Linked DNA regions of Homo sapiens. The protein of the gene in region 2 purifies or fractionates together with the protein of the main gene of each other region. This does not show direct contact. Each region holds a gene or a part of one and is shown on either strand. Other genes may lie near its edges.

Region 1 (3,500 bases), on a different chromosome or scaffold from region 2:
CTGCTGCAGCCTTTGCTTAAGAAGACTTTAGGTGGCTCACGTCTGTAATCCCAGCACTTTGGGAGGCCGAGGCGGGCAGATCACGAGGTCAGGAGATCGAGGCCATCCTGGCAAACACGGTGAAACCTGGTCTCTACTAAAAATACAAAAAATTAGCTGGACATGGTGGCGGGCACCTGTAGTCCCAGGTACTCGGGAGGATGAGGCAGGAGAATGGCGTGAACCCGGGAGGCGGAGCTTGCAGTGAGCCGAGATCGCGCCACTGCACTCCAGCCTGGGCAACAGAGCGAGACTCCGTCTCAGAAAAAAAAAAAAAAAAAAAGACTTTAGGCCTCTGAAGATGGAATAGAAACCGCTCTGTTCCTGAGCACCAGGGGCTGAGCTTGGCCATCTAGGGGAGGTCCTGGAACCTGCATTTCCCCAGGCTCTCAGGTGACTCTGACACTGGTGTTGGCAGTGAGGGGTCCCTTGGGACCTGCAGTGTTACCATCAGGAAGGAGGGGTCCCCAGAGCCAAAGGCAGCTCCTTCTGGTCCTTGTGCTTGTTGATGACAGGAAGTTGAATGTGGCTTTTAGTTAAAACAAAAAACTGTTCTGGAAACCAGCTTGGTTTCAGCTCATCACTGTCATCTGAACAGCAGAGAAAGAGACACGTGTATGGAAGGGGTAGCATGTGTTCAGTGTATTTTTGCTGTCAGATTAGCGTTTTTTTTTGTTGTTGTTGTTGTTGTTTTGCTTTCTTTCCTCACATTACATTAATATGGCTGTCCATTGTTTTCTTTGTAAAAACTACATTTTATGGCTTTTTCTGACTATAAACTTACCTATTTTTGGTAGAAATTTGAAAAATACAGAGGAGCATAACAAAAAATAATTATTTTTAATATCTTAAAGCTAACCACTATTAACTTTTTTAAAAAATAAAATGTATTTACTTTTGCTTGAGATTAACAGAATTTTAAAAATGAAGTGAAACTCAGTTTACGCTGAACTTCAAATAAATTTCCCTTCCAAGCTCATGACGTTAGTTCCTAAAAGATTGTGGTAAAGTTACAAAAAGGTTATGAAAAATACTGAAATTGGTATTTTTTATTTAACTACATGTTTCCTAAAATGTAGGCTTCAAGTCAATAAACCTTTCACTGTCTTACAGTTGTCTAAACAGATATTAAAAGCTCAGTTTTTAATTTAAAATTGTTTAAAAGTCAAACCTATTTTTAGGATGATTTGTTTAGAGAAATTAACAAGGAAATGTTGATCATTAAGAATTAACACCCCAAAGAGGCCACTCATCTTCAGGGAAGAAAACAAGCAGTCCAGCAGGTGGTGAGCGAATGCAGCTCTTTGAGAGCCTCCGATGGAGTCAAGGAACTGTGAAGAGGACCCCCCAGGGAGGGGGCTCTGGGTTTGCTCCGTGCAACTGAAGGCAGGGAGCGGGAGAATGGGTGCTCTCCTCCTCTGCCTGCTCTGTCTGGAGGGCCCTGCGATGCTGTTTCTTCTCATGTGTGCCCATTCTGCAGGCGAGGAGACCAAGAGCTTGGAGTGCAGGGTGGGGGGCTAAACCCAGGTGTGACTAATTCGAAACACCACTCTCACTTTTTCCTCATTCAAGACGGACTGTTTGGCAGGTGCTAGGGGAGATGCAGGGTGGACTCTAAGACAGGCCCCGCCCACAGTGGTGGGGAGGCAGAGCAGGCCTGGGGCACAGGAGAGGACACCAACCTGAGGGTAAAATGGGTGAGCAGAGGGGCAGGGGATGGGGGAGCAGCTGCAAGGTGGCTGAACTGGCCTAGGGGAGGAGGGAGCTACGTGCTGGGAAGAGTTGGGGAGACCCCGCTGGAGGCTGCTGCTGGGTGCAGAGGGTGATGGTGGTGATGGCCGCGATGACGTCAACGGAAAGAACCCACGGACCGTCAGGCTTGTGAGAAGAAACAAAAGGCACATAAAATCCGTCTGTATAGAAACAATGCCTGGGGCAGGCCAGGCCTGCTCGAGGGGAATGGGGGACCTGCCATGTGCGAGGCTCGCACCAGGAGCCTGCCGGGGCAGCCTGACCCCAGCCCACCACTGCTTCTAATGCGGGGTGGGAGGGGAGGTGGGCCATGCCTGAGACAGGTAGGGAGCTTCCAGACGTAGAAGCTGGAGGTGAGGCAGGGGCGGGCAGGGCCTGATGATACCAGGTGCTGAGCAGGCCCCAGGACACATGGTCACAGGAAGGCAAATGAAACTGTCCCCTAAGGTTGACAAGAATTGCATGCCAGGTTCTGGACAGAAAGATACTCATAATTAAGCTTGAATCAGGCTGCTGCTGGCCCAAGATGTTTTTCAGATCCCAATTCCAGCAACCAGTTTGGAAACCCCCCACGGAGGAACAGGATCATCACGAAAATACAGCTTCTTCCTCTCCCTGTGCTGTGACATCACGCTGCCCCTTCCAGCTATCGAGCTCCAGAACCCTTAAAAACCCGGGCCCCAGCCTCCTCGGGGAGATGGATTTGAGTTTCCTCCATCTCCTTGTCTGGTGATCCTGCGATCACCCTGCTTTTCTGCTGCAGCCCCGTGTTTCTGAGCATCTACTGGCTGTGTGCATGGGGCAAAGTCCTGTCCGGGTGCCCGAGGACCAGTGTGCAATGGGGTGCAGATGTGAAGCTGCCAGGCCAGGGGAGTTGCCAGGGCCTCTGCCCAAGGCAGCAGGGAGCTGCAGTTTCTGACAGCTGCTGGGCATGCCCTGGGCAGGGTACGTTCCTGTCCTCAGAGCATAGGCCCAGTGGCAGAGCTGGCACTAAGCCAACCTGAGGAGAGAAAACATGGGCAGGGATCGCTGTGGTGGCACCAGGCAGACCCTTCCCACCTGCCTTTAGTAGGAAAATGGGTGGGCACAGCGGGGGCTGGCATTGCCCACCTCCTCCCTCTTTCAGGAGTGTTCTAGGTGTGGCCGGGAGGTTGGGAAGCCCCTGCTTGTGAAACCATCCCTGAGATGGGGACCTGGGTGCCGAGAGCTGGACGCAGATGGTCCCTGCTGGTGTCCCTCCCTGTGTCACCTCAGGGGGTGCCCTTTCCATGGGCCAGTACTGAGCTGGGTGGGGAGACCCTTTGAGAGGGGCCCCATCGGCCCCCATCACCCAGAGCATAAGGTCTGCATGGCTGTGCCTGAGCACTGGGGTGTTGGGGGGGTGCAAGTCCAGCTTAGAGGTGCTGGTGTTCACTCTGCCCACCTGGAGACGCTTCACCCCAAGCCCTCTCACATGACACCATCAAAATTCAGAGAGCCTGGGTCCTTGGGGCCACACCTGCCCGCTGTGCTCTTGGGTCTCTGCCTGATGGCTAATGGCGGAGTCTATCTTTTGAGGGCACACACATGCCCCTGGCACAGACAGGACACTGAGCTCTACCAGATCAGTCCCGACCTTAACCCACTGGGACACACCCGGAGTTTGAATTCCAGCTCTGCTTCTCACTGGCTGTATGATCTCAGGCAAGCTGCCTAACCTCTCTGAGCCT
Region 2 (3,500 bases):
CCTCAAAAATAGAAAAAAAGGGCATTCCTGCCTTACCTTCTACAAGGGTCTTCTCTGAAATTCCAAGCATCAGGGTGTTATAACAGACTCTAAAAAGGGTTTCCTTTTTTCTTTCCTTTAACATTGCTTATTGCACAGCATGTTGAGACAGAGAAGATGGTAAGTGAAATAAAACAAAGGAAATAAAAAGTATCATCACTGGGTTTCAGAATCAGCATGGTTTATGCTAAGGGAAAGACTTGGAAACCTTGATTCAACATATAATTCTAAAAAGAGACAGGAAGAAATCCCACCTTGTTTCCTCTGATTCTACCTTTGGGATGGGTAGGTATGTTATACAATAAGAATAACATTAAGATGACTGCTATAAAAATAGTGGTTAAGAGCCTGGGTCCAGAATGAGAAAGGTGGATATTGAATTTACCTGAGTGCAACTAGGCAGACTCAGGTGAGTTGATTTTACCCACTCCTCCACTCAAATACTGGGTATGGCTTTGCAAAAACATTCAACCAGTTATCCACATAGTTGGTCTTAACTTTCCATGTGACTATAATGAATATAAACTTGCTAATGAGCAGAGTGTGATTTTAGTGTTTAAACTATTTTTTCCCGAATAATAGTTCCTAGATGCAGTTAATGAGCCTTATTGGGTACCCACACAAAGGAGATAGAATTGTCTGTTGGACTTTTTGAAAAACTTTCTTGGTTTTAAAAAAGGTACATTTCTAAAGGATTTTTATGTGTAGTTTTGACTAAACAAGTCTTTGCCTTACTTTCTGTTTTTAAAATCTAACCTCAACATTAATATGTCACTATACTGGTTATAACCATAACAAATTATTTCATCTCTCTGAGCCTGAGTACCCTCAACTGTATACACTATAAGGATGTGAAGATAGAAAGTGACATAAAAATGAAACATGTACTGACCACCCTCATAAACAGATCCCTCATACATATAGAATGTCTGTGCCTGGTTGATTAGTGAAGGAATGTGTACTCACCCAAAAGAAAAACTCTGAAATAAGTACTTTTAGATATTTACTTTTTCAATATTCCAAGTAATTATCACAACATTAAGGTGCATTCAGCTTTGTGTGTTAACGTGGTATACCTCCAGGCAACTTTTAGGATACTGTACAGATACAATGGCTGTGAAGGCTGGGATGAAAAGACCTGTGCGAAGCAGGACTGAGGCACTTAAGGAAGGCCTCAGAGTTACATCTCCTTTGCCTGTTTTCTTGCAGGCCACATACCCTAGCCCAGCCCTGTCAGCATGAGTGAGAACCAGGCTCTGCCTTTGCCCACACTAAACCACTACCTTCAAGGCCCCACAAAGACCCAGTGTCTCCAGACGGTCTTTCTGTCTTCTTAACACTCAGAGCTCCATGAACCAGAATGAAAGTTTTGGAACATGATCCAAGTAAAAGACTCAAGAAGTAAACACCACTAAGGTTAACTTTGCTTTAGAGGTTAGAGAAAACAATGCAAGGACACCACACCAGAGACTATGAAAACCCCAAATGTATTGAAATGATGCTGATTCCATTTACCTCCATATTGCCTGATAATACCCAGGTGCTACCATGGCAGCTTAAGGTGGTATTTGCTGGGAGCTATGATACTCTTTAAGAAGTAATAGCACTACTAGTAAAAGCAGTTAGTTCCAGGCAATATTCTATGCACATGACCCATTTCATCTTCTTATAAACCTCATGAAGTATATATTATTTTCATCCTCATTTTATAGATGCAGAAAGGGAAGCATAGACGTAAATTTCCAAGATTACACAGCTATTTATTGTTGGAACTGAGATTTGAATTCAGGTTGTCTGTCTTCAGGGACTGTGCTCTTAATCTCAGTGGTCATCAAACTTTTCTGTAAAGAGCCATCCAGTAAATATTGTGGGTTTATATACATTCTCTATTGCATATCCATTGGTTTTCAAAAATAATCCTATACAAATTCAAAAACCATTCTTAGCTCATAGACTACACAAAAACAGATTGCAAGTCCAGTTTGGCATTTACTGTTCCTATTGATCAAGGGTTTAAGAACATAGTGAGTACACTATTCCACATTCCCCTTAGGCAAATCCTGTATGTTTATAGTACTGTTAGATTTCTGTTGACAAAATAATCCACAATTCTGACTTCATCTCTCTCTCTCTCTCTCTTTCTGATTTTGTTTGAATTTATGAGGTTTAGTTGCATTTTCAAGTTAGTCTTCCTGCTAACTAGTGATTCTTTTGTTGAACATTTAAAAAGGGACTGTCAGGATTGAATAAGAGAACCTCTTCCAGTCACTTTTTTTTTTTTGAGAAAGGATCTCACCCTGTTGCCCAGGCTGGTGTGCAGTGGTGCAATCACAGATAACTGCAGCCTCAACCTCTTAGGTTCAAGTTCCCCCTGCCTCAATTTCTGAGTAGCTGGGACTACAGATGTGCACCACCATGCCTAGCAAATTTTTAATTTTTTGTAGAGATGGGGCCTCACTACATTACCCAAGCTAGTCTTGAACTCCTGGGCTCAAGCAATGCTCCTGCCTCGGCCTCCCAAAGTGCTGGGATTACAGGTGTGAGTGACTGCATCCAGCCTCTTATAGTCACTTTTAATCTATCATTGGCTTTCCCATTAGATTGTACTGTTATACAAGGAAGTGACTTCAGACAGTACGGCACTAGACTAGAGGCTGTGTTTTTCTTTAATAAAGGCATAAATGAGATGAATTGCTCTAAGGCTTTAGGCTTGTCCCTTTTCTGAGAAGTGACCTTTGGGAGGTCACATTTAGTTAAAGCAGTTTTGCTAGTATAAATTTACCAGGATCCTGACATGTAATCCTGTATCATTTTCAGTAAGGTTAAAATGGTATATGAAAGGAGGTGGTTCACAAAATGGATTAATATCAACATGGAACTTCATGCTTTCTAGGTACCTGCTGCATCCTTGGAGATTCAAAATGTCATCATGGCATTCTAGGCTAGACTGGCAGTGGAGAAATCACTGTGAGTTATTGGATTTGCTCAAGATAAAATCTTGAATTTGCAAATAAATCCTGGTCAGCTTTTTTTAACACTCTTGTGGTAAATAATACACAACTCAGATTCATGTAATGGGTGTAAGAAAATCATTGCTTTGGTTATTTCAGTATGAAACTCAAGAGAAAACTTACTGAAGTGTTTTTAAAATTATTCTGACCACAACCCAAGGTAAAACATAAGCCAAAAAACATATCATGACATAGTAAATGAAGCCAGGATTGTATATATATGTCTACTCAAGTATATGAAATGGAAACAACAGTTTCAGAGGCAGTACTATGCTTACTACATTTGAGGCATTTCTGGTATTTTCTATTCTATTTAATTAAATTTTTAGTACTTCTTATTTTAGCTACATTTATTTCATAACTCATTAATGGGTTTTGACTCACAGCTCAAAAACACTGCCTTAGAGAATCCAAATGTTCACACTATCCATATTTATAAGAAGTAATTGT

Evidence for each region. Proteins that work in one complex are often made in the same cells at the same time.
Region 1: the proteins of STK32A (region 2) and CST7 purify together in Homo sapiens (affinity purification with mass spectrometry; one large-scale study listed by BioGRID and IntAct). This does not show direct contact.

What each region holds. Positions count from the first base shown.
Region 1 is NC_000020.11:24,952,269-24,955,768, reverse strand, and holds part of CST7 (cystatin-F precursor), read right to left. Parts: intron 1-3,500. UniProt on the Homo sapiens protein: Inhibits papain and cathepsin L but with affinities lower than other cystatins. May play a role in immune regulation through inhibition of a unique target in the hematopoietic system.
Region 2 is NC_000005.10:147,273,026-147,276,525, forward strand, and holds part of STK32A (serine/threonine-protein kinase 32A), read left to right. Parts: intron 1-2,938; exon of another isoform or gene 2,939-2,960; coding exon of another isoform or gene 2,961-3,006; intron 3,007-3,500.